Homo sapiens: one gene and its partners. The protein of the gene in region 4 purifies or fractionates together with the protein of the main gene of each other region. This does not show direct contact. Each region holds a gene or a part of one and is shown on either strand. Other genes may lie near its edges.

Region 1 (2,648 bases), on a different chromosome or scaffold from region 4:
GTGTGTATATATACCCCCTATATATATGACATATAGCATAAACATCAAATATGTAACAGTATTAAAAATATAATCTGAATTTAATATTGTGATGGTCAATTTAACGTGTCCACTTGGCCAGGCCATTGTTCCCAGATATTTGGTCAAACACTAGTTGTAAAGGCATTTTTCAGATGAGGTTCATATGTTAATCAGTCAACCAGGCAGAGTGGATGACCCTTCACAATGGGGGTGGGCCTCATCCAATCAGTTGACAGCTTTAAGAGACAGAAGACCCACCTTCCCCAAAGAAGAGGGAATCTGCTAAAAAGTGGCCTTCTGGCCATGCACAGTGGCTCACACCTGTAATCCCAGCACTTTGGGAGGCCAAGGCGGGCGGATCACGAGATCAGGAGTTTGAGACCAGCCTGACTAACATGGTGAAACCCCATCTCTACTAAAAGTACAAAAATTAGCTGGGCGTGGTGGCATGCACCTGTAATCCCAGCTACTCGGGAGGCTGAGGCAGGAGAATCACTTGAACCCAGGAGGTGGAGGTTGCAGTGAGCCAAGATCACACCACTGCACTCTAGCCTGTGTGACAGAGCGAGACTCCGTCTCAAAAAAAAAAAAAAAGTGACCTTCTATTTAAGCACAGCATCAACTCTTCCCTGGGGCTCCAGGCTGCCCTGAAGATCTTGGACTTGTCACTCTTCAATCACATGAGTTGAAAAATACATCTCTTTCTTACACGTATACCCTCCACCCCTCTATTGATTCTGCTTCTTGGGAGAAACCTAATATATAGTATAAAAAATGTACATCTCGAGACACACACAGAGGCTAAAGCAAGTAAGAGCTATTATATAGTGGGACCTATTGCTACGTTTTCACATCCTTGGAAAATGGAGTTTATAAAACCAGGGAACCAGCAGACCTGCAGCCAGCCAGGTGGAGAAATGGGGCCGGGTGGGCCATGCGGGGGGCTCCAAGGACCTGGTGTGAGCATGGGGCCAGCTGGGGCTCTGCACCCTCCACCTGGTACTGGCCCCCTCTGCTGTGGGAATCCTGGTTTTCCAGGACACCCGCACCTCCATCCCACAGGACTGGCTGTCACAGGTGATGCCGGGCCTGTCACATCCTGAATAGGTGACAGCCTCTCCACGTTGGTTCTCTCCACTTGGGCACAGCCTCTTGGGGCAGGCCACCCCACCGTTCTGCTAAGCAAGTGCCCTGGGGTGAGTTATTTCTGTCCCCAGGGGGCTCGTTGCTCTTGAAATGGGCAGGTGGCATCTGGTCAAGCAGCCACCTTACCTGGGAGCCCAGCACTCTCCCCAAATCAGAGCAGGGCTGCTCTCGTTGAGCTGGGAGGGGAGTGGGGGGCTTGATGCCAATGACAAGGCCACTTGCTATCCCCTACTGTCCTGGAACTCCCAGGGCAGCCCTGCCCCAGTGCCCAGCACATCCTAGGAGGCAGGAATGAAGAGGACCCCTCCTGCCAGTGCCCGCACTGACCCACCTCCACCTCCACTGCCCCATCCAGCCCTGAGCCGGCATCTGCCCTACTTTGCAGATGTTAGGGACATACTCAAGGCCACCTCCCTGGCTGCTGGCCCAAGCTGGCTGAGCTGGCTAATACACGAGGCCTTCCCTTCTTCCTAGAAACAGGGGGCAGCTTTGGTGCCCCCAAGGACAGACGCTTCTGCAAGGAGAAAGCTTAGCATGTGTCTGCCAAATGCCCCGCTGGGCCAGCTCTGCCCACCTCCTCACCTGCAGCGTGTAAAGATAAGGCAGCCAGACACAGTCGCCCCAGCCCAGGTACCACCCGAAGTGGTCATGGCAGATGTCAATGGTCTTCAGGTACCAGGTTTCGTTCCAGAAGAAGTCAATCACGTAGATGGCCTGCAAGACAGAAGCAGCCGCTGACCACCCCCGGCCCTCCTGGGGCCCCCATGGACCTCGGGGAAATCACACTCCACGCAGATGCAGCAGGGGGTGCTCGGGAGCTGCTCAGCAACTTCCTCAATGCTGGGGCTGTTCCTTCCCTGCGGCTGGGGCTGTTCCTGCCTGGGTCATGGGCAGGGCTAAGGGCTTCCTTGTCCTCAGAACCACCCCGAGCCCATGGCCCTGGCATCTCTCCCAGCCCAGGTTCTCAGGGCTTGCAATGGCGCGTGCCAAGGGGAAGGGATACATTCATCCCATCCAGGTCAACCTCCTGCCCGAGCAACGTCCACAGCTCCTGACAGGCCTCCCTCACCCTCTCGGGTTCTCCTAGCCAGCTCCCGCTGGCTCCCTGGGTGACGCTTCCGAATGCACCTGATCGCTGCCACCCTGCACCCCAGCTCAGCACACACTTTCTGGGTCTTGCTGCTTTTAAGATAAAGAGGAAGACTTCCATGAGGCCTCCAGCCTCACCTGGCTCTGAGCTCCTGAACGCTCTCTGGTCAGGATGCGGGATGTTTCTGAGTGTCCCAGACTTGCCACCCTCTCTCCCTACAGGGGGTTCCTGGAGCATGCACTCTTGCCTCCACTCTACCAGGTTAACTCCCACACACCCCCAGATTCTACCCAGGTGTAATCCCCAAGGGAGACCTTCCTGGACCACGCCTGGCTGCGTAGAACCTGCCTCCTCCCCTCCCAGGGCTGGCAGAGACAGGCACCCAAGGATG
Region 2 (4,551 bases), on a different chromosome or scaffold from region 4:
TGCCTCGGCCTCCCAAAGTGCTGGGATTACAGGCGTGAGCCACCGCGCCTGGCCCCTGTGTCTGTTACTCCATTCTGCATGTCCATGTTTTACCCCTTGCTCAGCTCCCATGGTGACGAGATTCTTGTCCTTGTTTTGCCATTTTCTTTTTTCCCTGAGCAAGGCATTTAATTCATCTCAGCCTTAATTTCTCCTCTGTAAAATGAGGGATTCAGTCACACATACTTTGATTTTTCTTTTTCTAAAGTGTGATTGCTTAGCTGAAAGCCTAGCCACTAGATTGGAAGAAGTCATTGATTAGCACTTGTCTGAGCAGTGTGCCCTGGTTCTTTTCCTCCCTACCTTGCAAGGAACAAACAGCAATTTAAAAACTGAACTGTCATTTATGCTCATTTCAAAGACACATAGAATGATAAGAGCAATATGGAGTTGACGGATTTGGAGCTGGCAATTACACAGAATACCAGTAATGTGGAAAAATGCAAAGGCCTATAGAACGACTTCCTATCCCTAGCAAAAATTCACACAGAATCCTGTCCCCTGCACGTTTTAAGTGGAAAAGAATGACCCCAGAAAGTTGATTTAAAACTAATAAAGCTGTTTATTATCATTAATGATAATTTCTGTATAATTGTCACGGAGAGCTTATGCATGAATCTGTAACTTGTCGTTATTATGGTCTTCACTAGAAATTGCATGTCTTTTTTAATTTCTGAAATAAATTATTGGGATGAAGAGCACTGTCAGTTTTTGTATTAAAGTGTTTCAGTAGAGCGTGGCCGAATATTTGACATGATGAATCTGAATGAAATGATCAGAGCTATGTGAGGAATATGGTTCTACGCTGGATGTTTTGTGGACAAAACAGAAAAAAAATCCCAGCCTAGAAGCATTATTGAAATTGCATCGAGGAAAAACTATAATCTGGGGGTCATACTGTCACTCTGAGAGAACTACTATGTTCTGTCTCGCTTTCTCATCAGAGGAAATCCTTGTACCAGTACCACTCAAATTCTCTGTTCTCCGACTCCTGGCTTCAAGCGATTCTGCCTCAGCATCCCAAGTAGCTGGGATTACAGGCACATGCCACCACACCCAGCAAATTCTCCATTCTATACAACTTTTTTTTTTTTTTTTTTTTTTTGAGACAGAGTCTCGCTCTGTTGCCCAGGCTGGAGTGCAGTGGTGTGATCTCGGCTCACTGCAACCACCGCCTCCCAGGTTCTCCTGCCTCAGTCTCCCAAGTAGCTTGGATTACAGGCATGTGCCACCACACCTGGCTGATTTTGTATATTTAGTAGAGATGGGGTCTCACCATGTTGGTCAGGCTGGTCTTGAACTCCTGACCTCAGGTGATCCGCCCACCTTGGCCTCTCAAAGTGCTGGGATTACAGGCATGAGCCACGGTGCCCGGCCTTTTTTTTTTTTTTTTTTTTTTGTATTTTTAGTAGAAACGGGATTTCACTATGTTGGCCAGGCTGGTCTCAAACTCCTGACCTCAAGTGATCCGCCTGCGTCAGCCTCCCAAAGTGCTAGGATTACAGGCATGAGCCACCATGCCTGGCCCTATACAACTTTTCAAATTCTCTCTCTCTTTTTTTTTTTTTTTTTGAGATGGAGTCTCACTGTGTCGCCCAGGCTAGAATGCAGTGGTGTTATCTTAGCTCACTGCAACCTCTGCCTCCTGGGTTGGAGCAATTCTCCTGCCTCAGCCTCCTGAGTAGCTGGGATTACAGGTGTGCACCACCATGCCTGCTTAATTTTTGTATTTTTAGTAGAGACAGGGTTTCGCCATGTTGGCCAGGCTGGTCTTGAACTCCTGACCTCAGGTGATCCACCCACCTCGGCCTCTCAGAGTGCTGAGATTATAGGTGGGAGCCACTGCACCTGGCCAATTCTCTCTTATTTATTTATTTATTTTTTTTGAGACAGAGTCTCACTCTGTCACCCAGGCTGGAATGCAGTGGGCATGATCTCGGCTCACTGCAACCTCCGCCTCCTAGGTTCAAGCGATTTTCCTGCCTCAGGCTCCCAAATAGCTGGGACTACTGGCTGGCGCCACCACGTTCAGCTGATTTTTGTATTTTTAGTAGAGTCAGGGCTTTGCCATGTTGGCCAGGCTGGTCTCGAACTCCTGACTTAAGGTGATCTGACCGCCTTGGCCTCCCAAAGTGCTGAGATTGTAGGCATGATCCACTGCACTGGCCTCTCAAATTTTCTTTATTTCCTTTGATTTAATTCCTGGGCGAGGATCCTCTGCCTTGCACGTGTGGTTTTGTGCTGCATTGGCTTTGGAATCAGTAACCAATCCCTGTCCTCGTACTCCTTGCCGACTCAGGAAAAATGGAAATTAACAAGAGCTATAAAGTAATACAGAAAGGGACAGTGCTCCCATCTATGATTAAGTGCACGCAACTAATTCATACTTAAGGTTTTTTTGTCTCCTTCCCTTGCTCTATTTAAATTGCTGATTCTCTCACACCTGATGACTCTTCTCTCAAATGCCCATCCTTGATATTTCCTCGAAGTTTTGTGCACCGAGGGCGGCCTGAGCCTCTGGATCTTCACTTGGGCATGTTCCTGCCCACCTTGCTTCACCAGGCAACTGCGGAGCAGCAGGAGCGCTTCTTCATGCCCGCCTGGAACTTGGAGATCATTGGCACTTATGCCCAGACAGAGATGGGTCATGGTATGGAGTATTCAGTCTACCTTCTGGGTTGGGCGGGCCCCTGTGAGCTTACCATGTGTGGAGTGCCCACCATGTGCCATCGATGGTGTGTCGATGTTCTATGGTCTGTTTAAATGAGCTCTTTCTGCAGAGTCCAGGTTTTGGTATAAACACTGCTTTGGTGAGTGGGAATTAAAGACCATGATACTGATAAAATGATTGTCCTTTTTATACCATAGTTCCCCTTCAGAGGGTCAAGAATTGCAAATCAGGCCTTATTTACCAAGTGGTTTTTCAATGTTACTGAGGTTGTATAGAATCTGTGTGCATATACAACCCGAAGCTGTTTTTTTCTTCATTACTATCTGATTACCTTTACTACTGATACCTTAATGAGTACAAATTCCAGAAGAAATACAAATAATAGTTTGTGTACTCTTGGATTTGCTTGAGGGAAATGAGTAGCTTATAACTGACGTGTGTGACATTTTGGAGTTATTTGTACTTTGAGTCAATCAGTAGTTCTGCAAGTGACTTGGCTGGAGAGTGAAAAAACCAAGATAAGCCGAACTTGCAGGCATTTGGTTTCAGACTCTGTATCTCCACCTTTCATTGATCTTTCCACCCCCCACCTGCTTTCTTCATGCACCTGGGTGGGCTGGAGGTGGCCGCTGTTCCTCTTTGTATCTTCTCTGAATTGGGTCCGTGTTTGCCATTCATTTGCTTATGGCTTCTCTTTTTCTGCTCTGACGTTTCAGAAAAACTGGTCTAGTGTGTATTTGCCACTTGCTCCTTATTTCTATACAGCTGCTGCTTTTTATTTGGTGTTGAATAGTATTTTACAGGATTTTCATGAGACTCCAAGTGGAATACTATTTGTTTCAGTTGTGCTTTTGAAAACATTTTGTCCTTATCTGTTCTGTTTAATGTTATCTGCTTTTCTGTAAAAGCTGCTTCTTTGATGAAAGATGTCTGTGTCTGATTTGTTGACTCCCACTCGGGAAAGTTGTGGATTGCACATAAGTTGGTTATTCAACTTGGAAGCTTCTAAATGTTTCAAAGTGTGTTTAATGAGGTCTAAGCGTTATGAAAGCAGATTGGTAAAAGGTTCCCAACGTTTGCTTTAGTACAGTATTTTTGTAGAGACTGCCACCTAGAACATTTTTCTATGACTCTTTTCAAATAATTTTGATATATTTGTGTTAAGATTTAAAACATAAGATCCTGTCTATCCCAGTACACATAAGAAACTGGAAACTCTTCCTTGCCACATTAATGAACCAGCAGGACTAAGTTAGGCCTGCCATTGGAAATCTCTAGGGTCAACTGAGACCTTATTATTGGACCTTTAGGAATTTTTAAAAGTCACATTTCAGGTCATTTCCCCAATAACAGTTATACTTTTATACTTTTTTTTTTTTTTTTTTTGAGACGGAGTCGTGCTCTGTCGCCCAGGCTGGAGTGCAGTGGCGCGATCTCAGCTCACTGCAAGCTCCACCTTCCGGGTTCACGCCATTCTCCTGCCTCAGCCTCCCGAGTAGCTGGGACTACAGGCACCCACCACCATGCCCAGCTAATTTTTTGTATTTTTAGTAGAGACGGGGTTTCGCCGTGTTAACCAGGATGGTCTCGATCTCCTGACTTTGTGATCCGCCCGCCTTGGCCCCCCAAAGTGCTGGGATTACAGGCGTGAGCCACCGTGCCCAGCTTTAATTTTTTTGTTGTTTTTTTAGTAGAGACGGGGTTTCACCACTTTAGCCAGGATGGTCTCAATCTCCTGACCTCGTGATCCCCCCACCTCGGCCTCCCAAAGTGCTGGGATTACAGGCTTGAGCCACTGTGCCTGGCCTTTTTCTTTTTCTTTTTCTTTTTTTTTTTTTTTT
Region 3 (4,551 bases), on a different chromosome or scaffold from region 4:
TTCTCCCCTCATTTAGAATGTCCCCTCCTCTTCTACTTCTCCAAATCCTATCCAAACATCAGGGCCCAAGTCAATCTCTACCTGCTCTGCAAAGCCTTTCCCAGTCTTCTCTCCTCAGACTCACATAGCACTTCTTCCTCTACCATGCTGTGGATGACATGGCTATAGTTTGGCCTAATGGTGAAGAGAATGGACTCTGGAGCTAGACTGCCTGGATGACCTTGGGCTGCATCCTTTCCTAGCCTAGAGTTCTTCATCTGTAAAAATGGGAATAGGAATTGCATTTGGCCCATAGTTGTACAGATTATAGGATTAAACCCTATAGAACAGTGCCTGGCCCATAAGTTCTCATTAAATAGTAGCTGTTGTTATTATTCCTTCTGGCATATATTTAATCATGGCCTTCCTTGTCTTATTGTTTAATCATTTAAATTATGTATTTCTTGGTTCCTATTTCTTTGTTCCTAATTGTGAAGTTTTCCCATGAAGAAAGAGACTTGATTTTATAGTTTTCGTTTGTTTGTTTTTTGTTTTTTGAGACAGAGTCTCACTCTTGTCACCCAGGCTGGAGTGCAGTGGCATGATCTCAGCTCACTGCAACCTCCACCTCCTGGGTTCAAGTGATTCTCCTGCCTCAGCCTCCTGAGTAGCTGGGATTACAGGCACGCGCCACCATGCCCAGCTAATTTTTGTACTTTTAGTAGAGATGGGGTTTCACCACGTTGGCCAGGCCGGTCTTGAACTCCTGACCTCAGGTGATCCGCCTGCCTCGGGCTCCCAAAGTGCTGGGATTACAGGCATGAGCCACTGCGCCTGGCCGATAGTTTTTGTTGACCATTTTCAGCACTACATATGCATAGTAGGTCTCCAATACCTGTCACTTAAAGTGAAACTATTACTGCAGTAAAGAAAATAGATGGAACAAGAGTAAGGAATTGACGAGAAAAGATAGGCTTCATTTTACAGATGGAGTTCTCTTATGATTCTTAGAGCATGTAATTTGTTCCTTTTTTCATTGTTATTGAGTCTCGTGAGCTCTTCTGCCGCAATCACCAGAGTTGTGAACGTCATTCAGCAAGGATGCTGCAATTTCTGGAGGTCGTCGCAGACCGTTTTCTTCTAGGCCCATGGTGGGACGCAGTCTCAGACAGTAGATTCTGATTTATCAAAATATCACAAAGCATTAAGTGGTAGGTCATGTGCTAGTTGTTTGAACATATTTCCCTTGCTGAGGGCATGAAAAGCCACCAGAAGGGAGCCTTTAGTCTTCAGCCACCCTCTCTGCTGTCCCTTTCTCCTTTATCAGCAGCTCGGATGGATATTCACAAGCACCATACTCACCTGTCACTATTCATAAACAGGGGGAAGTTGAAAGTTACACCCCAGTAGGAAGAGGTAGGGACCCAGGTGGAATCATTCAACAAAATTAACCCAGTTGCAGACAGGAGTCCTCATCATGGCAGGAACTGCCAGCGGGGTCCTTTTTCTGCCATTCACCCAGCAGTCCAGGACCCCCACCAGGTCCCTCCCAGCTCTGTGGGTGCCCTCACCTAGATGAAAATGCTGCATTTCTCATTCTCCTAGGCTGGAACAAGACATTAAAAAGTTAAAGGCTGACCTGCAAGCCAGCAGACAAGTGGAACAAGAGCTCCGCAGTCAGATCAGCTCCCTTTCGAGCACCGAGCGAGGGATCCGCTCAGAAATGGGCCAGCTTCGGCAGGAGAACGAGCTGCTGCAGAACAAGTACGTGCACCTTTCAGGCCTTTGGCCGTAAGCCCGGCAGCTTCACTGCTTCTCCTGTTGCCAGGGGTTGGAGCACAAGATTTATGGTGACAGAGACCTGCTGAGAGGTTTTTAAATAAAATGTTTAAAATACTTTATTTAGTACCAGATATTCAACATGTTTATAAAATCTATAAAAACTTATTTCATTGCCACAAAACAGTTTATTAATATTACTGTTTTTGTCTTCTCTCATTTAATAACTTCTTAGTTTAAAATAGTTATTGAGTTTTTGGATAGTAAAATTGACAAGAAGTAGTTCTGTCACATTTTGAAAATTTTGCTCCTTTGAGTGAAAATTTCTAGAGGATTTGACTATATTTACTTTTATTTCCAGAACTAAAAGATGACATTGAACTTTGATTTTATTTGAAAAGGCAGGCAGAAAGCCAGGTCTTCTGTGTGAATTCATTTAGGCTTTTGATTAGTTCATTCTGGAATTACTTCTTAACTCAGTGTAGGTCTGTCCTTTTTTCTTTTTTTAAATCTCCCAGCAATGTGTGCCCGTGGTAGTGATGATCATTACAGGCTGTTGGCTTTCTGGGCTTTCCCTGTTGAAAGAGGAGTTCAACATTTTTAAGGAATGTAACTCAAAAGCTAGGGCATTACAGGCAAATAACCTCTCCATTGCCTCTGACCAGCATTTGTGGTGGTTCTAGCATTGATATGTAGAGAACATCCCAGTGATAAACTCACCTCATGCTGATAGGTAAAGCTGGGGGTGGTAGTAAGCAGGAAATATGGCTGAAATTTCTATCTGAAATTAAGCATCCTGTGACTCTAAAAGAGGATTTGGGGACACTGTGAGCAAACATCCTGAGCTGGAAAGGAAAAGCTGTAGTAGGCTACAGCAAAATTGTATTCAGGAAAAATAAAAACCTTCCCCTTTCCACCCCTTACCTTAGTTTCACTGGGGCTGGTCCCATCAGTGGTTCTTTGGTGGGACTGAAGTTCTTTCAGGGTGCTCTGGAACATTAGAATTAGTTCTACAATTATCTTCCCCTCTGTTCAAAATTTGTTTTACCCTGTTTTCTGGATGACCTTTTGTAGATCACTTACTTGAACAGAGCAGAGGCTAGGTCTTAATCTCTGTTTTGTAAGGCAGCTTGTTTATTGGTGTTTAGGAATTATTAAAGAATAACAGTGTGTTTTCCTCAGGCATTCTGGGCATTGACATTTTTGATTTGCTGTTCAAACCTCCTGTTTAATTGGCCTTAAGGTGATAAAGAGATGTTTCTCAAGGGTTTATAGTGGGCATTTGTAATTTTAAGACTTTATATGACAATCATTTCCATATAGGTTACATAATGCTGTGCAAATGAAGCAAAAAGACAAGCAGAATATCAGCCAGTTGGAGAAAAAGCTAAAAGCTGAGCAGGAAGCCCGAAGTTTTGTAGAGAAACAGTTAATGGAAGAGAAAAAGAGGAAGAAGTTAGAAGAAGCCACTGCTGCCCGGGCTGTTGCGTTTGCTGCTGCATCTAGGTATGTCCATGTCACCTGAGTGTTTAATCCAAGGTTGGCTTTCCTTTACCAACAAAGACATGGGAATTTGGTGCCTTGGGCAGGATTGGACGTACAGCAATCATGCACGGATGGATTGCTTTTAAGTACTGTTTTATTAACTGGTTTAAACTCCATGTGTGCAAGCTTGCACTATCTTATAACAGCTTTATCCCTCAGTGACCTCATCTATAAAGTGGGATGAGGGAATCACCATGTTTCCCATACCTGGGAGGCAAAGTACTGCTCATAAAAAGGTTTCCAGTCACTTTTTGTCAGACTGATGATTACTAAATGCATTGAGAGATTCTATCTGGAAGTTCGTTCCCTTTAGAGAGCTATCATTACTCTCCACTCTTAGGTATATGTGTTTCTGAAGTTTTTATCTTAAAATGGAAGAAAGATAAAATCTTGGTTGCCCAAGCACTGTGTACTGGCTGCTCAAATGGATATCAGCAAACTGTCAAATGAAATGGAAAAAAAAAGTGAAACATAAGTCTCTACTAGATGGAATTACATTTATGGCATAATGAAAATTGGGGACTACCTCCTATACCACTGGAAAGTACCCCTGTGTGCAAGTATTCCAAAAACTATTAGATAGTTAAGAGCTTTTTTTTTCTTTTTGCTTCTACTTCACTTATCACTTTTTCCTTTGTTTTCTTGACTAGTGAAGTCCCTCTGCATGTGGGAATCAGTTAGGTGTTTGCAGATATAGAGCGAGGGTAAATTATTATTTATTTCACTTTTAAATTCCATCCTAATTTGTATCTACGTGGTATAATTCAACTGTAATTTTTCCTTGAATTTTGCTTTGTCGTAATTAAAGTTAAGTAATTTAACTTTTGGCATGTTGATAGCCTTCTTTGTGGGTTCTGGCATTTGCAGAATAATTGGTGAATCATTTCACCTTTTAGGAAATAACAGCAAGTGAGAACTCTCTCCTGTGTGATCCTGCCTCCCCCCAGCAGATGGCTGAGCTGGCTTGGCCCATCAGCATCTATACAGACTTACAAGGCCCTTGACTAGCCTGCCTACAATGTGGGATTGTTTGTTTGTTTGAAGATGTATTTGCATTCTGAAGCACTTAAACTTGCAGGAGATGTTCTTGAACAGTCATCTAGTGATGACTGCTCTCCTCTCTCCTCAATTCATACAGCACCTGCCCTTTCTGAAAAATTCCACTCAGGAGGACATAGCAGTTCCTTAACGATATTGCTTAGTGTCTCCCATGCCTGAGAATCAGTAAGTTGATTTCAGTGTCTACCC
Region 4 (5,021 bases):
GTGCATGTACTGACGAAAGGCCATCAAATACAATTTAAAATAATTAGCCCACTCCAAAGAGTCTTCTGCAGCACGCACTTCTGCTAAGGGCTGCAGTGAGTGGGCTCTCACCTCAACCTGAACCAGACGGAGGCTGAGGCTGGGCCCCACTGAGGGGCTGTGACTTGCCCAAGGTCATCCAGGGCCAGGCCTGTGCCCACATTGGGACTCTTTTCCTCCCTCAGACAGAGGGCACTTCAGTCACTGCAGAGCAGGTGGCAGCAGCCCTTCAGTGGATGAGTTTCTCCTTTCCCAGGGTGACTGGGTGGGTGAAGGAATTGAGCAACAGGTGGCCAGGCTGCCGCCTCTCACCCTGACACATTGGTCCCCATCCCCTCATCCTACAGCCATCTCAGGGACAGATGGAGACATTCCAATGCCCTCCGGGTCCTCCACCAACCCAGACAGAGCCTGGAGTCACAATGCCCACCTAGCCAGAGGGATCAGCCAGCTAGCCAAGTGCCCCCTGTGTCTTTCATCTGTTCTTCACAAGACCCACAAGTGAAAAATGAGGATAAACCGCACATTCTACACACGATAACAACATAGCAAGTCCTTATACTGCTCTTACTGTGTGCCCGGCCCCCTTAGCAGTAGGTACTATTATTATTCAATTTTACAAAGAAACTAACTGAGGGACAGAGAGGCAAAGTAATTCCCTGCAGGTACTCTAATGAGTACGTGGCAGAGCTGGGAGCCATCCTGGTTGTCTGCCTCGAAAGACCACACTCTTTGCACTGCATCGCGGCACTTCCTGCGGGGTGGGGGGCACAATGGGAGAAGCATCTGCGTCTAATGCTGCTTTACTTTTGAGGCCAGAAAAATGGGAAGGCTCCCCTCTGACTCTGGAAGAGAGACGCAAACCGTAATCTCAACAACACAATCCCCACCTCCAACCTCAGCCGCCCTGGAGCCTCTCTCCCGCCAGTCCGCCCACTGGAACACGGGTTCCATGTGCCATCCAGGGTCAACGCCGCTCTGGGGACGCGTCAGGCCCAGCGCACAGCCTGGGCAGCTCAGCCTGTCAGCTGAGCACGGGCGCCTCAAGGGGTGCGGCCCTCTCAGAAGGAAGGTGAGTCTCCCTGGAGCCCCTGACGACAGCGAAGCGGCTGGGCGCTCTCCGGGGAGTGGGCGCGGCACCCAAGAAGGGTTTCTTACAGTTCCAAGAGAGGACCCCAGCCACAGTCACTCCAGAGCCCACCCGGGGCTTGGAGGAGGCTCTGGAAAATGAGGGATGGGGGAGTGTGCAGAACAGGGGGCGGAGGCTGGCAGGAGCCGAGGGAGGGCTTGGTCGGGTGCGAAGAGTGCCTGGGAGGAGTTAGAGTGGGGAGGGGGTGCGGCGGCGGGGAGAGAAGAGGCGGAGCTGGGGGACCAGACCGCTAAAGGAGAAAGGGGGATTCCAGGCAAGGGGAATGTGGCCAGGCAGTGCGGGAGGGCGGCAGCGGCCAGGCTAATATTCGCGACCCCGACTGGGGCGCGGCAACTTCTGCCCTCAGTCCCCACAAGCTCCCGGCCGCGATTCGCGGCCGAGAAATTCTGCGGAGGGGCCGGTGGGTCAGAGCCAGGCCAGGCAGTTGCTGAGCCTTCCCCTCCCCTCCTGGCGGGAGTGTGTGTGCAAGGGGCCAGGGGGCGGAGTCGGAGAAAGGGTTGGGGGTGTCCGTGTCCAGCGCTCCTCCGGACGCGGCTCCACAATCCAGCTGCGAGAACAGATGGACGCAGCGGCGGCTCACCTCGGGGGCTTCCTGCTCGCTGTGCGCCGAGGTCCAGGCTGAAGCGGAGATCGCAAGCCTCTGGCTCCCGCCTCTCCCAAGGGGCCTCGAGGAACCGGCTGCCGCGCCCCCTTCCCCAAGAGGAGAAGAGCGGGCGCTGACCCCGCGAGTCCTAGAACCGCGGGCGGGGGGCAGGCAGGGGGCGGGGGGCAGAGGGCCAGCTACCGGCGCGGAACGCCCATCCCAGGGGCTGGTTCAAGACTTCCACACCGAGAGCCCTTCCTGGGCCTCCAGCCCTGGAGCATCTGGAGAGCGGACCCCTGCCCGGCCACGCCCCGCCCCCGGCCCCCGCCCCGCCGACGTCGCATTAGCATGAGCGACGTAAGTGGCCCGGGCACCACTCGGGGGCTGGGACTCGCCGCGTCACAGCCCCGAGTGGAAGGGAAAAAAAAAGAGGAGGCGGCGGAGGAGGCAAGAGCCGACGCGAGGGGAGGGGAGCGCAGCGGCGGGGCTAACGGGCGGGCAAGCGGGCGGGCGGCAACAGCATGTCCCTCGGCCAGCGCGGGCGGCCTCTTAGCGCGGCGGGGGCTGCTCTGGGCGCGCCCCGGGCGAAGTGCGCCCAGTCTCCGGCCCCGGCCCCTCGGCGCGCCCGACTTCCCGGCCGCCCCTGAGCCCAGCAGCCGCGGGTCCCGGGATCGGCTAAGAGTAGCTGCAACGCCTCGCCGGACGGAGTCCTTTCCTTTCCCGGGACGCTGGGCCATGAGCTCCGCGGCCACCTGAGGCACAGGGGAGTCTGCTCGGCCAGGACAGCCTCCCCGAAGTCCCGTGCCCTCGCCTCTGCACTGCGGGACGCCAGCGCTCGGCCCTGGCGGAGGCGTCCTCGGAAGAGCATCGGGGTGGGGGCATGGAATCCGCGGAACCTGCGGGCCAGGCCCGGGCGGCGGCCACCAAGCTGTCGGAGGCTGTGGGCGCGGCGCTGCAGGAGCCCCGGCGGCAGAGGCGCCTGGTGCTTGTTATCGTGTGCGTGGCGCTGTTACTGGACAACATGCTGTACATGGTCATCGTGCCCATAGTGCCCGACTACATCGCCCACATGCGCGGGGGCGGCGAGGGCCCCACCCGGACTCCCGAGGTGTGGGAGCCCACCCTGCCGCTGCCCACTCCGGCCAATGCCAGCGCCTACACGGCCAACACCTCGGCGTCCCCGACAGCTGCGTGGCCAGCGGGCTCAGCCCTTCGGCCCCGCTACCCTACGGAGAGCGAAGACGTGAAGATCGGGGTGCTGTTTGCTTCCAAGGCTATCCTGCAGCTGCTAGTGAACCCCTTGAGCGGGCCCTTCATCGACCGCATGAGCTACGACGTGCCGCTGCTGATCGGCCTGGGCGTCATGTTCGCCTCTACAGTCCTGTTCGCCTTCGCCGAGGACTACGCCACGCTGTTCGCGGCGCGCAGCCTGCAGGGCCTGGGCTCAGCCTTCGCCGACACGTCTGGCATAGCCATGATCGCCGATAAGTACCCGGAGGAGCCGGAGCGCAGTCGTGCACTGGGCGTGGCGCTGGCCTTCATTAGCTTCGGAAGCCTAGTGGCCCCGCCCTTCGGGGGCATCCTCTATGAGTTCGCCGGCAAGCGCGTGCCCTTCTTGGTGCTAGCTGCCGTGTCGCTCTTTGACGCGCTGTTGCTGCTGGCAGTGGCCAAACCCTTCTCGGCGGCTGCACGGGCTCGGGCCAACCTGCCAGTGGGCACTCCCATCCACCGCCTCATGCTAGACCCCTACATTGCCGTGGTGGCCGGCGCGCTCACCACCTGTAACATTCCCCTCGCCTTCCTCGAACCCACCATTGCCACGTGGATGAAGCATACGATGGCGGCTTCCGAGTGGGAGATGGGCATGGCCTGGCTGCCGGCCTTCGTGCCTCATGTGCTGGGCGTCTACCTCACCGTGCGCCTGGCGGCGCGCTACCCACACCTGCAGTGGCTGTACGGCGCGCTTGGGCTGGCTGTGATCGGCGCCAGCTCGTGCATCGTGCCCGCCTGCCGCTCCTTCGCGCCGCTAGTGGTCTCACTATGCGGCCTCTGTTTTGGCATAGCCCTAGTCGACACAGCACTGCTGCCCACGCTCGCCTTCCTGGTGGACGTGCGCCATGTCTCAGTCTATGGCAGCGTCTACGCCATCGCCGACATCTCCTATTCGGTGGCCTACGCGCTCGGGCCCATAGTGGCAGGCCACATTGTGCACTCGCTGGGCTTTGAGCAGCTCAGCCTTGGCATGGGACTGGCCAACCTGCTCTATGCTCCCGTCTTGCTGCTGCTCCGCAACGTGGGCCTCCTGACGCGCTCCCGTTCCGAGCGCGATGTGCTGCTTGATGAGCCACCGCAAGGTCTGTACGATGCGGTGCGCCTGCGTGAGCGTCCTGTGTCTGGCCAGGACGGCGAGCCTCGCAGCCCGCCTGGCCCTTTTGATGCGTGCGAGGACGACTACAACTACTACTACACCCGCAGCTAGCATCCCCACTCCTCCTCCAGCCCACCCAACCGCCTTGGGTCAAGGGGGCTGCTCTGCAAGCCCACTGGCCAGCTCTGGCTCAGGGCCCACCTCCTCCAGCGAGTACCCCAGCCACTCCTCAACCTTGACTTCTGCCCAAATCCCCTCCCTGTGACCCGTTCCATATCCCTTTCTCTCTTGTCCAATGGGGCTTGGAGCACCGAGGCCAGCGAAGCCATCGCGCTCCTTGCGGAGGTGAAGAGGACCCTGAGTCCCCACCTGCGGCTCCCCTGTGTAGAGCCTGCATCTGTCTGTCCTTCCTTCCATTGCTCCCAGTGCCAAACTTGGGCCGCTGCACCGCGGCGCCTCCGCCCAAATCAATAAACTGTGTCTGTCCCAGGAGGCCGAGTCTCTTTACTGGTGGGGGGTGCGTGGAGGCGCGCAGGGCCAGAGCAGAGGGGAGGGTGAACTGGGTCTCCAAGTCCCAATCCAGACCTAAGCCAAACTAACACGTAGGCACCTGTAGCTGTTTTTCTACCTGGAAAAGGGGATAGGAAGGAAGCAAACCCAACAAAGGCTGTCACCCACGGTCACCAAGGAGCACCATGCTCCCCTCAGCCCAGGATAGACCCTCTTTTCCAGGCCTAGCGCAGAGCCCGGGGATGCCGCCCGGGGGAGCCTGAGGACCCGCTCCAGCTAGGCACGCCAGGCCCCGCCCTTTGAGGACACGCCCCACACCAGCCTCAGAGCTCTGAGGTGCCTGGGCTGAGCTTCCCTTCAGACCAGAATCC
Region 5 (4,551 bases), on a different chromosome or scaffold from region 4:
GCAGATGGATGCATAGAACCGACTAAGCTGACCTTGAGTGCCGGATCTTAAGCCCGCAGCAGTGAAAGCAGAGAAGCAGCCCTGTTTGCCCTGCAGAACCCCAAAAGCTCAGGAGTGGGATGAGGGTGGGCCTCATGTAACTACTGCTTCAGAAGACTCAGACCCTGACATCTTTTTCCTACAGTGCACAGTTGGGCGTTAGCCTCCTCCCACCTTGGCAGAAGACTGGAGGCTTGTTCTCTGGGGAGGGTTCCTGGATGAGCAGACAGTAGGGACAGTTGAGGGCAGTAACACTGGACTACAAACATGGGGTTATGTGTAATGTTAACGCTGTTGACAGTCCTTGCCTTCTTCCACCATTTGGTTCCCAGAATCATCATGTTTAGGCTTGGCCATTCCACGTAGGAGGTTGTAAGATTGTCTTCTGGGGTATGGATAGCCCAGGATAAAAGACACTGGCTCTGGCGGCTCCCCATGAAATAAGCCAGCCAGATTTTCACCATGACAAGCCTACACACTCACACATAACTTATAGGTAGCATTTAAGCAGGCCTCCATACACTTGGAGAAAGCATCTGATAGGTAAGAGACCAAACAACAGAAAGAAAGAAACTTACAGGGAACTGAGGCGCTACAAGCAGAGGAAACTTTAAAAAAACACCAAAAAACCAAAAATGACCTGTCATTACTATTCTTAGAAAATTAGAAGGAGATAAGCTATATCCGTTAGGTAAGAACTGGATGCTATAAGAAAGAAACATTGAGAGAACAGAAAAGAATCCTTGGAAATTAAAAATTAGATAGCAGAAATGAAAAAGTTAAGAGAAAGTAAGTTGAGGAAATACCCAAGGAAGTACAGCAAAAAGACCAAGAGATAGAAAATAGGAGAGAAAAGGTAAAATTAGAGGACTGGCTCAGAAGTTCTAATGTCCAAATAATAGGAGTTCCAAAAAATAAGAACACAGAAATGGAGGTATAATCTGAACCCCAGGGGTCAGCAAATGATGGCCTATGGGCCACATGAACCTACCCCCCCGTATTTGGAAATCAAGTTTATGGAAATACAGCTGTGTCTGCTTGTTTATGTGCTGTCTGTGGCTGCTTTTGCTCTAGAACAGTAGAGTTGAATACTTGTGGCAGAGACTGTGTGGCCCACAAAACCTAAAATACTTACTATCAGGGCCTTTACAGAAAAAATTTTCTGACCCCTTATCTGAACAATTCAAGGAAATTTCTAGACATCAGTTTCTGGGTTGAAAGGGCCCCCTTGGTGCCTATCATATTGGATGACAGATGACCTACACCAAGGCATATTATTGTGAAGGTTCAGACTAATGGGGCAGAAGTTCTAAAAGGCTCTGAAGAGAAAAATCAAGAATCATTGTGCCACTGGACCCCTTAGCAACAATACTGGAAGCTAAAAGACATTGATGCTATTTCATTAAAAATTCTAGTGGAGGCTGAGCATGGTGGCTCACACCTGTTATCTCAGCAGTTTGGGAGGCAGAGGTGGGAGGACTGCTTGAGCCTATGAGTTTGAGACCAGCCTGGGCAATGTGACAAGAGCCTGTCTCGATTTAAAAAAAAAGAAAAAGTCCAACAGAAAATGATTTCCATCCTACAAGTCCATGTGTAACGTGTATCTGTTAAGTGTGAGAGAAGAATAAAGATGATTTAGTACAGAAAGGAAAAGTGTGGCACATGGTTTGGGAACAGTATTTAAATACTTAAAAAGTATGTAAACCCAAAAGAGGACTGCAGGCACAGGAAAGTGTCTAATGGGGGCAGGATCCTCATTTAACAGGGAAATCAATAGAAAATGCCTCCAAGTAAATGTGGAGAAGTAGCACACCAGCAAGATCAGTTAAGAGTTGAAGAGCGGTTGTTTCTAGGGATTGGAAAGGGGAGAGTGGGTGAGGGCCGATACTGCTTACAAGCTCGGTTAGAACCATTTGATTCTAAAATGCATGCATGTGTAACTTTGACAAACATAAAAGCTAAATTACACAAGTGACCAAATGATCTATTTCCTTATTAAAAGAGGTTCAAGGAAAAGTCATACTTGAAAATTCCTTATCAGAGGGAAACTAACTTTTTTTTTTTTTTCTTTTGTGAAATAGCCAAGTTCAACAGGGGAACAGAAGACTAAACCTACCCAGAATAGTGTTCGGGAACTTAGAGGACTTGGGCTTTCCCCAGATCTGGTAAGATTTCCTGATAGCTGGTTGCAGTGTAATCTTTTATGTCTAGTTAAGATCACTCTATCATGACAGACAAGACCTTTGTCTTGTTGGGTTGCTTTTGATAATTGATGATGGAGAAAATAGGATTAGTTCTTTGAACCGGGCTGTAGTTTGCAAGATGTTCATACTTAGAGCGTGTTAGGTCTTGTACTCCCCAGACCTTATTTTTCCTCTCAGTCTTTTTACTCTCATTTTTACTCCTACTTGGGAACACTAATGGAGGAAAATCCCAGAGCTCTTGTAGTTCATTAATGTATTCATTTGTACTGCCATTCTCTTATGTTTCTCCAGTTTGGCGTTTACGGATTTTAGCTTTGAAACGAGTCATAATATTTTTATGGATTATGTGCCTGGTGCTGAGAGTTAACGTTTTCGTTCATCTTAACAATGTGATGTCTGTTTTAATTTCAGTCAGGAGAAACCCCTACTTCTGTCATTTTTTCCTTCTGTCTAAGCCATCTTGTTCTCTACTGCTAGGTTGTATGCAGGTGCTCAAATCCACTTGACACATCAGTGAAGGAGAAAATATCAATGTTCTGCCATGTTGAGCCTGAACAAGTGAGTAGAAATTCCCATCTCTAATAAGTTGTTTTTTGCTTCTAATTGTCCTAAAGCCTCTTGATCAGTTTCGTGAGGCTTGTTATTTTCTAATTAGAGATAGTGGGCTGTTCCAGAAGAACCCATTGCCATCGGCCATTCCCTGCCTCTCCTGGTTCCCCAAACAACACCTGTGTCCCTCCTGCCTCTTCTCCGTGCCTCGTTGTACTTTGTGCTTCAGCCGGGTGGAGTATCTTTCGGTTCCCCTAGTACCCTCCACTCTCCCTATGATTGTACTTTTTCACTGGCTAATTTCTGTTAAGAACCCATGTCCCCCTCTTCCTGTTGGCTTGGCAGTCTCCTACTCACTCTCATCCTTCAGGTTCTAGCGAAGACATAGTGTTGTCTGAGAAGCTTTAACTGCCAAACCTCCTGGCCCTTGGCCTTCAGGGTTAACTGCGTCCTTCACTGGGCTCCTGTGTGGTGTCGCATGTATGCTGCTGATGGGCCCATCTTTCTGGTGTGTGTGTGTGTGTACATGTGTGGTGTGTATCTCCCTTCACAGACTCTAAGCTTCTGGAGGGCAAGGGCCACCTCATTCAACTTTCTGTTTCTGGTGCCTGGTGTCTAGGGTGTTGTAGGCTGTCACAGAGATCTTAGTGTTTTTGTTACTGTACCTATGATGCAGGAAATCCAAAATTTGGAACCTGTAATGTATCTAAGTGTGGTGCTTAGTATGGAAATTCTAGTGGTGATACATTGAGCATGTAGCTTTGGCCAGGTTTTAGATATTTCTGGCCTAGCAAGTGAAGGAAATTCAATTCTGTAGCAGAATAGGTTGTCATTAAAATTGTTCAATTTTTTTTTTTTTTTTTTTTTTAATTGAGACAGAGTCTCGCTGTGTCGCCCAGGCTGGAGTGCAGTGGCGCGATCTTTTTGGCTCACTGTGACCTCCACCTCCCAGGTTCAAGCGATTCTCCTACCTCAGCTTCCCGAGTAGCTTGGATTACAGGTGTGCACCACCACTCCTGGCTAATTTTTGTATTTTTAGTAGAGATGGGGTTTCATTATGTTGGCCAGGCTGGTCTCAAAGTCCTGACCTCAGGTGATCCACCTGCCTCAGCCTCCCAAAGTGCTGGGATTACAGGTGTGAGGGCGCCCGGCCTTAAAAATATTCACTATTAAAAATGTAACAAGTATTTCCACATTTAAGTTTAAGTTTCAGATTTTTTGCTTTTTTTTTGAGATGGAGTTTTCACTTTTTCATCCAGGCTGGAGTGAAGTGGAGCAATCTCAGCTCAGTGGAACCTCCACCTGCTGGGTTCAAGTGATTCTCCTGCCTCAGCCTCCCGAATAGCTGGGATTATAGGCACCTGCCACGATGCCGAGCTAATTTTTGTATTTTTAGTAGAAATGGTGTTTTGCCATGCGGGCCAAGTTGGTCTGGAACTCCTGACCTCAGGTGAGCCACCCGTCTTGGCCTCCCAAAGTGCTAGGATTACAGGTGTGAGCTACCACGCCTGGCCTTGCCTTTTTTTTTTAAGAGACAAGGTCTTGCTGTGTCACCCTGACTAGAGTGCAGTGGTGCTGTCACAGCTCACTGCAGCCTGGGCTTAAACAGCCCTCCTGCCTCAGCCTCCTGAGTAGCTAGTACCTTAGGCGGACGCTACCATGTTCAGCTGTTTTATTTTTTGTAGAGATGAGGTCTTGCTATGGTTGCCCAGGCTGGTCTTGAACTCTTTGGGCTCAGGCAGTCTTCTTGCTTCAGTCT
Region 6 (4,551 bases), on a different chromosome or scaffold from region 4:
TACACGTACTTATTGAACAATAGGTGTCTGTAAAAAATTTGTTATGTTCTTTGAGTGATAATATTAATAAAAAGATCTGGTCCTCTGTCTTAGATATATTTTGAGATTTTATGGCAGCAAACCAAGTACCAAATGGTGATAGTTAGATAGTAAGTGCTGTAGATGTGTTTCATGGAGGGCGGGTCTGTACAAACCTACCCCAAAGTCTGAGGAAACTGAGAGGCTGAAGAAAAAGGCTGACAGTTTCTTAAAAAGAAACATTCAATAGAGGCTTTCAAACAAAAACCATGGCTGTTTCACACAGTTGTGAGACAAGATGGTGGATCCCTGTGCCATTACCCTCCAGACCCAGGAATTATAGACCATGGGGAGGGGCATACATGCTTCAGAGGAAATTATTAATAGTAAGAACTTGCCCTAAGGGCAAGATTTATGGTAAGTACATGCTCTTACACAAGGAACAATAGATAAACTGGAAATCTCAGAGCATTCCTGGAACTAGAGTTAATTGGAAGTCAAGATGGCAGATTAGCTTCCAGTATGGAGTTGCGTTAACTTCACAAGGTGACAGGTAAGGATGGCAGGAGCAGCTATAACAGCTTCAGATTCAGAGGAAACTCAAATTTGCCATGAAACATAAGCTGGACTTGAATATGTAGGTAATATGGATGAGAGTATTCGAGGCAGAGTGAGGGAGCATGAACAAAGGTTTGGAGATTGGCATGGACTTGCCCAGTGGCTATAAAGGACCAAGCAAAAGAGAATGTGTGTATTAAAGTTGCAGATGTGAATTTCCTCTTGTAGATAGTGGAGGATCATTAGGCCCTGACCTACACCTTTCAAAGGGGCTGAAGAACATTCCTGTGAGTGGTCTCTGATTTATAAACGAGTTCTATTCCAAAACTCTATTTGTACAATGGCTTCAATTTTTAAATCATATTTATTTTGAAATAAGACAAGTAATTCACTAATACACTTTCATCATAGACACCTCAAACACCACAAACAAAGACAAAGTTTTCCTCTCACTTCATGTGCAAACCCATCCCTGTTCCCATACAAACCTCTGTTACCAGCTCAATGATTGGGTTCTCAGCCAAACTCACAGAAGCAGTTTGAACCCGAAGTCAGCCAGGACTGTGGTAAAAACATCAGTGTGAGTTCTCAAGGCAGAGACCCAGAGACTGTGCAGTGCAAGCTAGTGAGAGAGAAGAGCATCCTTTTGTGACTCTAGTGCTGTTCAGGTGCAGCACAGTTTCAGATCCTCCAGTGACTGCACTGGAGTTGCATTAGAGTTTTCTCTCTATTTCTCGGAGCGCTTCCTCCCCTCCTCATTTCTCAGCCACATATTTCTCCGGGATTTTTCTCACACTTCCTTCCTCTGCTGCATCATTCCAGAGTTTTTCAAGCTTGGAAGCCTCCCTCCTGTTCTCATTTCTTCTACATTCACCATTTGTTCTTAGTAAAACTTACGTAATTGAGAAAAAGGCTCTTTGACTAAACAATTTGCACTTAGGAAAAAGTTTTTAAAATTCTCTTTGCCTTTGTGGTTGCCAAGTCTCTGAAATTTTAAAAGTTCAGGTTGACCGATAGGTCTTAAGCTAGGGGCTAGGTGCTTAAGACCTATCGGTCGACCTGAACTTTTAAAATTTCAATTTATTTTAATTTTTACACAAAGTATGCTTATTATACAAATACATTTTCAACCAGGGACCTTGTGACAGTTTAAAAATGTCAGGCAAAGCATTTCAAGCAGTATAAGTAGGTCTCTTTGTGGGGAAGTTAAGCCAGGTCAGGCTTTGCTGGGGGCAGCTCCCTGCAGCAGCTCCTCTCCACACTTGCTCTGTTTCTCACTTTTGAATCCAAACGTTTTTGAAAATGTTCTGAGTTTATTTTAAATGTGGCTATGGTGGTTGAGAGCAGTGGCAGGGTACCTAGCAAGTTTGGAATTGAAGTTGGAGGAAGCCCTGGGGTAAACCCCTTGTAATTATGGGTCTTGTGTCAATGATTGCTTTAATGGAACTCTGGTCTGTTTGAAAGCAGAGTTATGGTAATAATTGAAAAGCCGCAGATCTTTAACTCAGCCATTTACCATATATGCAGTTTTCTCCATGCTCCTTCTCACTCCGCTGGGTGTATTTTTCCCTTCCTCGTGCCCTGTGTAAGCACATGGCTTATTTACTCATGTGATCTTTGGTTCCTGCTGGGTCAGGGTTGTCTCCATTAGATCATAAAAACAGGGCCAGGCAGGAGCCTTCAAATGAAGGCAATTTGGTCATGGTGGTGGTGATGATGTTGGTCTTGACCTCCTGTGCCAGGATAAGTGGGAGAAGATTTGCAGCACTCAGGACACAAGCGTGGAGGTCTATGAGCACATCAACTCGATGTCTCTGGATATAATCATGAAATGCGCTTTCAGCAAGGAGACCAACTGCCAGACAAACAGGTCAGTGGTGGGAGAGCAAAAAAGATATTTCTTCACATTTTCTAAGTTGTTTATTAACACATTATCCCAACTTTCTCTTCTAGCACCCATGATCCTTATGCAAAAGCCATATTTGAACTCAGCAAAATCATATTTCACCGCTTGTACAGTTTGTTGTATCACAGTGACATAATTTTCAAACTCAGCCCTCAGGGCTACCGCTTCCAGAAGTTAAGCCGAGTGTTGAATCAGTACACAGGTATTTGTTGGGTTTGGGTTGCCCACGTCCATACGCTGCCATGATTGTACTGTGTCTGTCTAGAGGGATAAACCTTAATATGACAAGAGAAAGAATCTTTGTTATTAATGGAGCTTTTATATAGACACTGCTCCAAAGAAATTTGACTTGAGTCCTTTATAAGACTTTGCTTCAACCATAGCAGTATTATCAGAATTTTTATATATATATATATACACTATTTTTATTATGGACAATTATTATTAATACAAATATAAGTAGGCACTTAAGAGTTCCAGACATACATGGAATATGGCTTTTTGCACAGCGATTGCAGTAATAATAATGACAAGCTAAAAACATTCATGCAACATAGGAATGGAGAGTGGAACAGAGTAAACATGGACATGCACCCGAAAGAATATTGATTCAAAAACAGTTTTAGCAAGCATAAACACAAAAGTTGAAATAGATTAAGCTTTTTAAGCAATTCAACATTACTTGTCATGAATGCCATAATGGAGAATACTTATCAAGCAGTGAATTAATCCTTCATCAGCTTCACCACTTACTAGCAGTTACTAGTAAGTTACTTACTGCTTTGTTTCAGTGTCATCTATAAAATGGAGATTAAAAAAGAACCTATCTCATACATTTGTTGTTACGATGAGTGGGTTAATATATATAAAGCATTTAGGACAGTGCCTGGCACTGAATAGATGTTAAATGTAAAGTATAGTTATGTCAAATGTCTTTGCTTCCAGGAATTTTGCAAGACACACCAACATATGCACACTTACACATACATATATGCATACATGCACATAGATATTATAAAGAGGACACTCAGAGAAGCAGGTTATAAACAATTTAAGGCATAAATGGGCATTATAAATAGCAGCAGTTCCCAAGTCTTTCTGCATCATTGCACACACAGAAAATGTTAATGTTTTTGTGCTTCATTGGAGTAAACAGGAATGGATTTGGGGGAAGCTATACAGAACTTTGTAAAAAAAAATCTTTACTTTTTAAATATTATACAATTATGATGAAAAAGCAAAATGCAAAGTGTTAGGGAAAATATTAAATGTTAAATTTATTCAAAACTTAAAACCTTTTCAATTTTTTTTTTTTTTTTTTTTTGAGATGGAGTCTCTATCACTCAGGCTGGAGCGCAGTGGTGTGATCTCAGCTCACTACAACCTCCACCTCCCAGGTTCAGGCAATTCTCCTACCTCAGCCTTCTGAGTAGCTGGGATTACAGGCACTGCCACCACACCTGGCTAATTTTTTTAAATTGTTTATTTTTATTTAGTCAAATATATCAATATTTTATTTTATTGCATCTGGATTTTTAGTAATCACAAAAAGCCATTCTCTATTCCAGGGTTTCTCAACCCTCAGCACTAATGGCTTCTTAGATTAGATAAGTCCTTGTTGTCAAGATGTGTGCATTGTAGGATGTTTAGCTACATCCCTGACATCTACCCACTCGATGTAGTAGAGCTCTGATAGTTATAGCAACCATAAATAACTCCAGACATTATTGAATGTTCCCAGGGCCCCCAGTTGAGAACCACTGCCCTGTACCCAGGTTGTAGAGAAAATTATTTATGTTTTCTTGTAGTACTTGTATAATTTCATTATTTTCATATTTAAATCAGAGATCTAAACTCCATTTAGAATTTATTCCTATATATGGTGTGAGGTATTGATCTAATTTTTCCAAATGTTTATCCAGTTGTCCCATCACCATTATTTAAAAGTTTATCTTTTCAAGTGATTTGAGATAACCATCACATTCTAAACGGATACATGTACTGGTATCTGTTTTGGATAAGAGTATATTTGGATGTTCTCGTGTATTCCATTGATCTATCTACCAATG
Region 7 (4,459 bases), on a different chromosome or scaffold from region 4:
TACTGGATTGTTAAAAAATGAAAAAACCTGACATTATCTCTTATTTGCTAGTTGTGGGGAAACACACCTTCTTGTACATTGCTAGTGGGAGTCCATATTGGTACAACTCCATTGGAGGACAATTTGGCAATATATTAATATATTGGAATCACAAATGCATTTAACCTTTGGGATTTTATTATGTGTGTGTGTGTGTGTGTGTGTGTGTGTGTGTGTATGCTACATATGCTTACATACACACCAAACATACAAGGTTACTCACTGTAGTATTAACATAATAGCAAAAGACTGGAGGGAAAACTCAAGGGCCCATCAATAGGGACTGGTCAAACAAGATATGGTACATCCATAAAATACTGTGTTAGATAGCTGTAAGAAAAGAATAAGGAATTGTGCATTGATATGGAAAGATCTCTACCATACATTGCTAAGTGAAGAAAAAAGTAGTTGCTGAATGGTTTGCTACCTGTTGGGAAAGAAAGGGCAGAATATTTGTTTGTATTTGCATAAAGTAATTTCGGAAGAATAGGCAAGAAACTTAAAAGTATCTGTGATAAGGGAGAAGGGTGAGATTGGGAAGGCAGGAAATTAAGAAAATGAGAGTAGGAGTGTTTGGGTATTTGGTATAGGAATATATTAACTAAAGTTATTTTTTTAAAAGACAATTTTCATTTTTGGAACACTGTTATTGTTATTAGATTTTGAACATTAATGGTGGTAAACAAACTATGTTTATACTTTTACAATTAGAATCCAGATATTAAGAATAAAGATGTTCTTAGCACACTAATTATTAGCATTGATTGACAATAATTTGGCTTCAGAATCAATGCTGTCAGTGCTTCTCTTGGAAGAAATGCAATGATTGTCTCAAATAGAAATTTTGTCTATAACTGGAGTTACTGGTACTAAAGATAGTCAGGGCCTGGTGTAGTAGGTCAGAATCAGCCAGCTCCAGTGTTCTTCCTCTTGGTGTCCTAAACCTTTAGGATACCTCACCTGATTGATTTCTTATGGTTTGAGAACAACTGCCCTGGACCCTTCACTGCTGATTCTAAAGATTCCCTAGATCCATGGTGAAATTAGTTCCCAGAATGGATACAAAGTGGGAGCTCTGAGGACAGAAGGATGAATATGGGAGTTCTGGGGAGGGTGAGGAGTTTATCAAGTGATCAAGGTGGAAGTCTTCAGAGTTTCAGAGCACACCTGTGCAAAGGCACAGAGTCCTCAAATCACATGGGGAGTGGTGACTACTCTGGTGCACCTGGAATGATGGCATTAATTGAACACCTAGTCTGGTCCCTATCATTACTGTTATGTGGAATATCAAAGAAATGAAAGAAGCACTTCTTATCTTCCTATAATTTCCTTCAGAAGCATGCTCCATTATACAATTAAAGAAAAAGAAGACCTATGCAATGATAAGGTAAATAAACATCAAGTGTTTTAGTGACTTTTACCATTTATCAGGCAGGAGTAGTCTGTGACTTGCAGGGCAGGGCAAAAACAGTAGAGGATCCGATGTCCAAGAGACTTGGGTTCAGACTCGCCCTGCCATTTCCTAGTGGTGTGATGTTGGGCAAATCACTTGATCTCTTTTATTTTTTATTTTTTGAGACAGTATCTTGCTCTGTCGCCCAGGATAGAGTGCAGTGGTGCAGTCATAGCTCACTGCAGCCTTAAATTCCCTGGCTCAAGCAATCCTCCCACCTCAGCCTCCTGAGTAGCTGGAACTACAGGCCCATAGCACTGCACCCAGCTCTCACTTGACCTCTTTGAGTCCTTATCTACTCATATGAAGATGGGAATAAATATGTCATCCTTGGAAAATTTGTGAAGACCAGAGATACATGCAAATTCCCTGGTAACAATCAACAAATGATGTATTTTCTTATTTTACATTTCTTTGGTTTCCAAAGCTTCATTTTAAACATATACTCAATTATCCTATTTTATCCATTCTAAGATGTGTATCTCCCCCTATATTTTAACATCTCTAAAATCTGGATGTGTCTCATAATAGATGCTATCTCCTACTGTCATCTAGGTTGCAGGGATAATCAAGTCGTGTGAGCACCTGGTACGAATGAGAAAGCACTAGCAACAATGAACAAGAAACAATTACCAATAAAATCTGGGTAATTTCATTTGAAATTACCACTACAAATCTTGATTTGGGTTTGTACTCTAACACTACCACAACAGGACAACAATTATCTTCCTCCCCCTCCCACTTTGGAACCCTTGATCATTGAAATAAGTTCATAATCCTCCAATGCAAGTATATTCTCGTGTCACATAATTATTTCTTGTTTGCCTGTGACACAGGGAAGACTTTTGTGGTAGTGGGGAGCCATACGTTGATCTTTAAGTGATGCAAGAATTCTGCTTCAGGAGAGATAGCTTTAAGAATCTTCCAGTCCAGGACTGCAGGAAATTCGCTGCCAACAAAGGTTTTAATATGACTCCCTCTCCTCTGCAACTATGGAGTTAATGACTACCTTCTTCCTGTGGCAGTGGAGGAGGGGGGGCTCCTGCTACTCCCAGCAATGGGGCATTTTGAGATTCAGGTACTTTGAAAGTAGAAAGGGGAGGAGGAGAACCAACATTTCTCAAGCAGCTACAATGAGCCAAACATTTTATGTTATTTCATTTATTCCTCCTCATAGGAAATGTGCTATTCTTAGTTTTGTTTTACAGATGAGACAGCAAAGTCTTAGGCTAAGGAATTTCCCAAGGTTATAAGTTGTAAAAAACACATGGGTTTAGATGAAGTATACCAGATATTCCAAGGGTTCTTTTCCTTTATAACTATAATATAATAATATTTATAAAATAGTATTTGAAACTTCTATAAGTAATCATTTAGTTAATCAATTAGTTAATTATAATTAGTCATCTTAATCAATAGGGTTATTTCTCTTCCTCTAATTTATCATTCTTTTCACATACAGTCCCACCAGGATATTTGCGATATACTCCAGAGTCACTCTGGAGGGACCTGATCTCAGAGCACAGAGGACTAGAGGAGTTAATAAATAAGCAAATGCAACCTTTCTTTCGGGGAATTTTGATCTTCTCTAGAAGTTGGGCTGTGGACCTGAACTTGCAGGAGAAGCCAGGAGTCATCTGTGATGCTCTGCTGATAGCACAGAACAGCACCCCCATTCTCTACACCATTCTCAGGGAGCAAGATGCAGAGGGCCAGGACTACTGCACTCGCACCGCCTTTACTTTGAAGCAGAAGCTAGTGAACATGGGGGGCTACACCGGGAAGGTGTGTGTCAGGGCCAAGGTCCTCTGCCTGAGTCCTGAGAGCAGCGCAGAGGCCTTGGAGGCTGCAGTGTCTCCGATGGATTACCCTGCGTCCTATAGCCTTGCAGGCACCCAGCACATGGAAGCCCTGCTGCAGTCCCTCGTGATTGTCTTACTCGGCTTCAGGTCTCTCTTGAGTGACCAGCTCGGCTGTGAGGTTTTAAATCTGCTCACAGCCCAGCAGTATGAGATATTCTCCAGAAGCCTCCGCAAGAACAGAGAGTTGTTTGTCCACGGCTTACCTGGCTCAGGGAAGACCATCATGGCCATGAAGATCATGGAGAAGATCAGGAATGTGTTTCACTGTGAGGCACACAGAATTCTCTACGTTTGTGAAAACCAGCCTCTGAGGAACTTTATCAGGTAAGCAGTTGGATCTTACGTCTCTAAGTATTATTTAATCTGGGTTTAATTTTTTCTGCTAAGTCACCGTCTTTCTTGAGAATTGAGTGGTAAAATGATCTGTGGTAATGTACTGTGCTCGGAGGAACATGATACAATTATTTTCTCCCCTTGTTTTTTTAGAGAAAACCTGAGTGTGTTCTTTTAATTTTTACAGTGATAGAAATATCTGCCGAGCAGAGACCCGGAAAACTTTCCTAAGAGAAAACTTTGAACACATTCAACACATCGTCATTGACGAAGCTCAGAATTTCCGTACTGAAGATGGGGACTGGTATGGGAAGGCAAAAAGCATCACTCGGAGAGCAAAGGGTGGCCCAGGAATTCTCTGGATCTTTCTGGATTACTTTCAGACCAGCCACTTGGATTGCAGTGGCCTCCCTCCTCTCTCAGACCAATATCCAAGAGAAGAGCTCACCAGAATAGTTCGCAATGCAGATCCAATAGCCAAGTACTTACAAAAAGAAATGCAAGTAATTAGAAGTAATCCTTCATTTAACATCCCCACTGGGTGCCTCGAGGTATTTCCTGAAGCCGAATGGTCCCAGGGTGTTCAGGGAACCTTACGAATTAAGAAATACTTGACTGTGGAGCAAATAATGACCTGTGTGGCAGACACGTGCAGGCGCTTCTTTGATAGGGGCTATTCTCCAAAGGATGTTGCTGTGCTTGTCAGCACCGCAAAAGAAGTGGAGCACTATAAGTATGAGCTCTTGAAAGCAATGAGGAAGAAAAGGGTGGT

What was found.
Region 1: the proteins of SLC18A3 (region 4) and DHCR7 purify together in Homo sapiens (affinity purification with mass spectrometry; one large-scale study listed by BioGRID and IntAct). This does not show direct contact.
Region 2: the proteins of SLC18A3 (region 4) and ACOX1 purify together in Homo sapiens (affinity purification with mass spectrometry; one large-scale study listed by BioGRID and IntAct). This does not show direct contact.
Region 3: the proteins of SLC18A3 (region 4) and MACO1 purify together in Homo sapiens (affinity purification with mass spectrometry; one large-scale study listed by BioGRID and IntAct). This does not show direct contact.
Region 5: the proteins of SLC18A3 (region 4) and CTPS1 purify together in Homo sapiens (affinity purification with mass spectrometry; one large-scale study listed by BioGRID and IntAct). This does not show direct contact.
Region 6: the proteins of SLC18A3 (region 4) and CYP4X1 purify together in Homo sapiens (affinity purification with mass spectrometry; one large-scale study listed by BioGRID and IntAct). This does not show direct contact.
Region 7: the proteins of SLC18A3 (region 4) and SLFN11 purify together in Homo sapiens (affinity purification with mass spectrometry; one large-scale study listed by BioGRID and IntAct). This does not show direct contact.

What each region holds. Positions count from the first base shown.
Region 1 is NC_000011.10:71,436,063-71,438,710, forward strand, and holds part of DHCR7 (7-dehydrocholesterol reductase), read right to left. Parts: intron 1,882-2,648; coding exon 1,750-1,881; coding exon of another isoform or gene 1,742-1,749; intron 1-1,741. UniProt on the Homo sapiens protein: Oxidoreductase that catalyzes the last step of the cholesterol synthesis pathway, which transforms cholesta-5,7-dien-3beta-ol (7-dehydrocholesterol,7-DHC) into cholesterol by reducing the C7-C8 double bond of its sterol core.
Region 2 is NC_000017.11:75,958,353-75,962,903, reverse strand, and holds part of ACOX1 (peroxisomal acyl-coenzyme A oxidase 1), read left to right. Parts: intron 1-2,528; coding exon 2,529-2,689; intron 2,690-4,551. UniProt on the Homo sapiens protein: Involved in the initial and rate-limiting step of peroxisomal beta-oxidation of straight-chain saturated and unsaturated very-long-chain fatty acids.
Region 3 is NC_000001.11:25,482,532-25,487,082, forward strand, and holds part of MACO1 (macoilin), read left to right. Parts: intron 1-1,584; coding exon 1,585-1,743; intron 1,744-3,081; coding exon 3,082-3,264; intron 3,265-4,551. UniProt on the Homo sapiens protein: Plays a role in the regulation of neuronal activity.
Region 4 is NC_000010.11:49,608,089-49,613,109, forward strand, and holds SLC18A3 (vesicular acetylcholine transporter), read left to right. Parts: upstream 1-2,221; 5' UTR 2,222-2,652; coding exon 2,653-4,251; 3' UTR 4,252-4,632; downstream 4,633-5,021. UniProt on the Homo sapiens protein: Electrogenic antiporter that exchanges one cholinergic neurotransmitter, acetylcholine or choline, with two intravesicular protons across the membrane of synaptic vesicles.
Region 5 is NC_000001.11:40,989,045-40,993,595, forward strand, and holds part of CTPS1 (CTP synthase 1), read left to right. Parts: intron 1-2,120; coding exon 2,121-2,204; intron 2,205-2,720; coding exon 2,721-2,801; intron 2,802-4,551. UniProt on the Homo sapiens protein: This enzyme is involved in the de novo synthesis of CTP, a precursor of DNA, RNA and phospholipids. Catalyzes the ATP-dependent amination of UTP to CTP with either L-glutamine or ammonia as a source of nitrogen.
Region 6 is NC_000001.11:47,033,488-47,038,038, forward strand, and holds part of CYP4X1 (cytochrome P450 4X1), read left to right. Parts: intron 1-2,318; coding exon 2,319-2,446; intron 2,447-2,529; coding exon 2,530-2,684; intron 2,685-4,551. UniProt on the Homo sapiens protein: A cytochrome P450 monooxygenase that selectively catalyzes the epoxidation of the last double bond of the arachidonoyl moiety of anandamide, potentially modulating endocannabinoid signaling.
Region 7 is NC_000017.11:35,352,555-35,357,013, reverse strand, and holds part of SLFN11 (schlafen family member 11), read left to right. Parts: intron 1-2,954; coding exon 2,955-3,678; intron 3,679-3,874; coding exon 3,875-4,459. UniProt on the Homo sapiens protein: Inhibitor of DNA replication that promotes cell death in response to DNA damage. Acts as a guardian of the genome by killing cells with defective replication.